Regions from separate parts of the Homo sapiens genome. Here region 2 is linked to region 1. Evidence: fine-mapped expression QTL. A gene starts in region 1. The other region holds a variant in brackets. All regions are shown on one strand. Distances are from middle to middle.

Region 1 (2,911 bases):
GGGTTGGGTTTGAGTGAGGGAGAAGTTAGTTTGTGCTCAGCGTATAGAAAGCTGAATACAACCAGAGACTGCTTGGAGTCCTGTCAGCCTGGAGCAGCTCTTGCTAGAGGAAATGAATCTTTGATGGTGTGCTCCCGAATATACATGATTCAGTGAGCCAAGTGCATACAGCTGAGCAGACCCAAGGAAGGCGAGTGGGTGGAACCTCAAGAATGCTGTGACAAGGCCGGATGCACACCTGCCTTCAGCCTTTCCCCAGTGGTGGTGGTGATGTTTGATGTTCGCAGAGTGAGGTGTGGGAGAGTGGAAAGCTCCCAGATACACGCATGAGCGGCAATGACTAGCTGGGTCCTGTGGGTTCCACCGCAGCTTGACCACAGCAAAGCTGTAATCTAGCGAAAGCGACTGTATTCCCTAAGACCCTCAAAGAGAGGGATGCTTTCTCCTCCAGCTGAACCCAACCTTTAAGGCCAGTGAGCTATGTGCCAGAGAAATAACACGCAAGAGGAAAAGGCAGACTAAACATAACCTGGGAGCACTCCTTCACATCGCCCGCAAGGCACAGGAAAGTTCCCAGAAAGAGAAATGTTTCCAATGTTCCAAGGCAGCTTTCCATTGACCCTAAGGACTTTAATTCATTTTCAAGATCCATGTGGGAGACACTCCAATTTACTCATTTAGCCCCAGCCCCCCGGCTGAATGACCCTCACTGGCCACAGGTGATAGGCAGAGGCGCTGTGTCCTGTTTTTGCTGCCAAAGGGCTGCAAGGCCAAGTCTGACAGGTGAGAGGGCTGGTACGTCCCTCTGCTCTCACAACCCAGGCAAAAAAAACTCGCTTAAAGGGTAGCGACACTGGGGCTTGCTGACACTTCCCTGACACTGGGGCTTGCTGACAGTAGGAGAAAGTCCCTCTGAGAGTCCAGACAGAAGATGGACAGTCTGAGAGCCCTGCAAAGGCAAGGAGGCAGTTGCTCCCAGACCGGCAGGTAGAGGGACAGGGAGAGAGGAGGCAGCTAGTGCTTGGTCCACAGAGAAAAAGCGAGAGAAAAGGAGACAGGGTGAGAGATGGCGACGGGGAGACACAAAGAAGACTGTGGGAGAGATGTAGAGAGAGAAAGTGGCACACACGGAGAGTGAGAGATGGAAACAGAGACAGTGACACTGGACGGGCGCCGAGAATGGGAGATGGAGGCAGACGAGACAGGCAGATGACCCATAGAGGTCCAGGTGCAGGGCGCGGCCCTACCTCAGCGTCCTTGGCCGGACCGCTGGCCGGGGGTAGCTCCAGGCTGCAGTTCGCTCTCTTGACCGTGAGGTAGAAGGGGTAATCCTTGGCCACCATGGCGGCTGCCGGGCCTGCCCTTTGGGATGTCACCGCTGACCCTAGGCGACTACAAAACTCCCAGGCAAAAGGGGGCCCCAGCTCCACGATGCCGGGCGGCGGCGGCGACACGGAGACCGACAGCCGGCTTCTAGCCGGGCAGGACTCGACTGGGCTCCGGAGCCGAGTGGGCGGGACCGTGCCAGCCACGCCTTGATGGGTGGGGAGGGGGCGGGCCGCCGGCTCGGCACCGCCCCACGCTGCCGGGAGGGCCCACGTGCCGCAGCGCGGACACCTCCTGGGGCTGCGAGGGGCGTGGGGCGGTCCCGCGGGTGGAGAGGGACCTCTCTCTCCCCGCTGGTATTCGACTCCGGGCGCCCCCGCAGAGCGTGGGCCGCGATTGCGGGGCAGGCAGACCCCATGATAGCTCCTTTCGGGCTCTTTGGCACTCTCCGGGTGAAAGGCTGCTGGTAGAAAGGAGGCTGGGGCGAAACCGGGCAACGGGGAGAAAGGAGGCTGTAGTGACACCTGGAGGCAGGAAGGAGCCTGGGGGGAAAAGCGAGCGTTTTAAAAGCCCACATTAGAAAGGGGTGGTGTTCTCTCTTACCCTGTTCCCAGGCCACTGCACGTTTTTTTTGTTTTGTTTTGTTTTTGTTTGGTTTTTTAAATGAATGTCAGTGGAATATAATCTACAAATGGCAAAATGCACCCATTTTAAGAGTACCGTTTGTTGAGTTCTGACAAATGTAAACACCCGTATAACCACCTCCACAGTCGGTATACGAAACATTTCCACCACCCCCGGAAAATTCCCTCGAGACCTTTCCCACTTTGCACCAACTTTTAAATTTGACTAGCATATTCAGAGGCTGCCTGACACTCGAGGGCAATCTGACAGAGTGTCCTTCAAGTATAAAGCTGTGCATGGATGACCTGGCACTACCACACCTTTCTGGATCCTTTTTGGAGAAACAATGACATTATAAATGCCCAAGAAGGCGATTGATCTTAAGGTTGTTTGCAGCAGCCCTGTCTGGGGCAGTAAAAAATAAAAAATAACTGGAAACAATGGTAATATATCCATCAATAGGGAGTGCTTAAATAAACTTTCTTCACTGTGTAATACCGCTTAGCAGCAGTGAAAAAGGAGATGGGTCTATGGGTGTGGCATGGAAAGATCTCCAATGTATTAGACTCAGTTTAAAAATAATTGCAGACTAAGCATAATACAATACCATTTGTGTTAAAAAAAAATACAAGTTTACCAAAGAATATCATATATTTTCTATAAAGACATATTTGTGGGTAAATAGCATTGAACACTGTCTACAAGAATCCACAGCAAGCTTTTACCAGTTCCCCTGTGGCTGAAGGGAGGCACCTGGGTTTAAAGAATTAAAGATAGTGAACAAAAGGGACTTAAGCTTATAGCTCATGTTTTAAAATTTTTTATAAGAAAAATACAGCCTGGGCAGCAGTGAAACCCTGTGTCTACAAAAAAAATACAAAAAATTAGCCAGGGATGGTGGTGCACACCTGTAATCCCAACTACTCCAGAGGCTGAGGTGGGAGGATCACTTGAGCCTGGG
Region 2 (2,911 bases), 34 kb before region 1:
AATTTTCTTCCTCTACTTGCTAATATACCTTAGACAACTTTTATCAAGTAGAACTTTTACAATCTCTAGAGCAGGACTACCTACCTTTCTGTATTGACTCTCTCCCCATTAAGTCTAGGCAGAATAAATAACACAGTAGATCCAAATAACATTAATGGAGACCACTAATTTATCATATGTTCATGCTGCATCTGGGTTGAATAAAATAACTCCCTGATCTAAGGGCCAGAGGATGGAGCAATGAGAGGCAGTGGTTGCTAGAAACCCTTCTTTGCCATAGCAATACTTCCTGGAGGGGCTACAACTGGGGGAGGGGACACATATTCTCCTTCAGCCCAGTTGAAGAAGATGGGCAGGGCCCCATCACTGGCAGCCACTGCCAGGCTCTGCAGAGAGCTTAGGAGCAGCAATGGCTGCCTTTTCTAGTCATAACGGTGATAATAATAGCAAGTACTAATTTTTGAGCACATCCTAAGTAATGTGTAGTATTAGGCACTGTGGATACAGAGATAAGTAAGACACCACCTTGGCTTGCATGGAAAACCCAAGGGACCCCTGGGAAGAGCTATCTTGAGGGATATCACAGCAAAGAGAAAAACTGTAGCAAAAGAGAAGGAGAAATGTAAGAAGTCTAGATTTAGATGTGAAAACAGAGAAGCAATTCTATCCAAAACTGACACACATCAAGAACAGAAGCCTTGCCGTATCAACGGCCTTTAGTATTCACACCCTTTGACCAGAATTCCATTTCTAGGAGTATAATCAAAGGAAAGAAAGAAATACAGACATACACATGATCAGGATGTTGAAAGCACTGTTATCTATAATGATGAAAAAACAGAAACAAATGTTCAACAACAGGAGAGTGATTAACTCAACTGTACATTCTTTTGATGAAATGCTTTATGAGTCCATTAAGAATCAGGTCTGTGGCGAGGTGTGGTAGCTCATGCCTATAATCCCAGCACTTTGGGAGGCCAGGGTGGTAGGACTGCTTGAGGCCAGGAGTTTGAGACCAGTCTGGGCAACATAGGGAGATTTTTGTCTCTATTAAAAAAAAAAAAAAATCAAGTCTTTGAAAACTACTTAACGACATGAAAAATACTCTTCTATTGTAGAGTTATTTTATACCGTTAAGACCAAAGGGAGTAAAAAAATAGCATATACAGTGTGATAGTCATTTTGTTTTAAAAAATGCACATGCGGCCGGGCGCGGTGGCTCACGCCTGTAATCCCAGCACTTTGGGAGGCTGAGGCGGGCAGATCATGAGGTCAGGAGATTGAGGCCATCCTGGCTAACATGGTGAAACCCCGTCTCTACTAAAAAATATTAAAAAATTAGCC[G/A]GGCGTGGTGGCGGGCGCCTATAGTCCCAGCTACTGGGGAGGCCGAGACAGGAGAATGGCTTGAACCCGGGAGGCAGAGCTTGCAGTGAGCTGAGATTGCGCCACTGCACTCCAGCCTGGGCAACAAAGCGAGACTCCGTCTCAAAAAAAAAAAAAAAAAAAAAAAATGCACATGCAAGTATAGTAAAAGGTAAGATTGCCTGAGTATGTACCAAAATATTAATGGAAGTTTTTTGGTGATGGGAAGTAGGATTACAAGTGACTTTTATTCTCTTTTATGTGCTTCACTATATTTTTCAGTATTTATTTATTTATTTATTTATTTTGAGACAGTCTCACTCTGTTGCCTAGGCTGGAGTGCAGTGGCATGATCTCAGCTCACTGCAACCTCCACCTCCTGGGTTCAAGTGATCCTCCCACCTCAGCCTCCCAAGTAGCTGGGACAACAGGTATGCACCACTACGCCCAGCTAATTTTCGTGTTTTTTGGTAGAGACGGGGTTTCACCATGTTGGCCAGGCTGGTCTCAAACTCCTGACCTCAAGCGATCCACCTGCCCCGGCTTCCCAAAGTGCTGGGATTACATGCGTGAGCCACCATGCCCAGCCCCAGCCTCAATATATATATATATTTTTGAGACATAGTCTCAGTCTGTCACCCAGGCTGGAGTACAGTGGCGCAATCTCTGCTCGCTGTGACCTCTGCCTTCTGGGTTCAAGCAATTCTGCCTGCCTCAGCCTCCAGAGTAGCTAGGATTACAGGCGTGTGCCACCACGCCCGGCTAATTTTTTGTATTTTTAGTAGAGACAGGGTTTCGCCATGTTGGCCAGGTTGGTCTCGAACTCCTGACCTCTGGTGATCCACCCGCTTCAGCCTCTCAAAGTGCTGAGATTACAGGTGTGAGCCACTACACCCGGCCTCAATATTTAAATGATGTTATATTATCAGAAAACAAAGCACAATAGAAGGTAATTTAAAAAAAAAAGGACAAATGCATTAAAAAGATTCAACATAGAGTTATTTAATATAAAAATATTCACAGCCTAAATATGTGTTAATAGGAGACTGGTTATGTAGAATAATATATACTCAGCCCATAAAGATAATATTTTCCAAGAATAACTGTGACATAATACTCCCCCCTAAGCTAGATAAAAACTCCTTGCCCAGCCAAATAACAAAGGGAGGAGGAAAATAGAGATGGAATAAAACACATTAAGCAAAATGCAAAAAAAAAAAAAAAAGAAGAAGATGACGACAAAATCCAAGGCAAAAAGCGTTAAAGGAAATAAACAGGAATATTTAATCCTAATAAAAGGTGCAACTCCCCCAGGAGGCTGTAATGGTGACAAATATGAACATTTGTGCACCTAACTGCATAGCTTGGAAATGTGTGAGGCTGAGACTGACAGAGATGCAAGAGAAACTGATCATCCACAGTCACTGTGGGAGGCTTTAACCTAAAAGTGAGCAGATCACCCAGACAGAGATAAGGCTGAATAGACTGTGAGGAACCCAAAACTAGGCTCAGAGTACGTGAGCTCTGCACCTATGCCTAGAATAGTGCT

What was found. PIP is the estimated chance that this variant, and not a neighbour inherited with it, causes the effect.
Region 2: its variant is the best candidate, but not a certain one, in a credible set for the expression of ARHGEF3 in whole blood (INTERVAL, PIP 0.89).

Annotation. Positions count from the first base shown.
Region 1 is chr3:56,800,456-56,803,366 of GRCh38, forward strand. It overlaps ARHGEF3 (Rho guanine nucleotide exchange factor 3), which reads right to left and starts at 1,494. Exons shown (of 10, transcript NM_019555.3): 1 at 1,248-1,494. The coding sequence starts at 1,343. RefSeq lists a silencer at 1,494-1,663.
Region 2 is chr3:56,766,097-56,769,007 of GRCh38, forward strand. The region is part of intron 2 of ARHGEF3 (Rho guanine nucleotide exchange factor 3); the gene reads right to left. Among named protein-coding and RNA genes, the nearest start is that of ARHGEF3, 34 kb to the right of the region's middle. The variant G/A (reference allele first, on the strand shown) is at 1,345.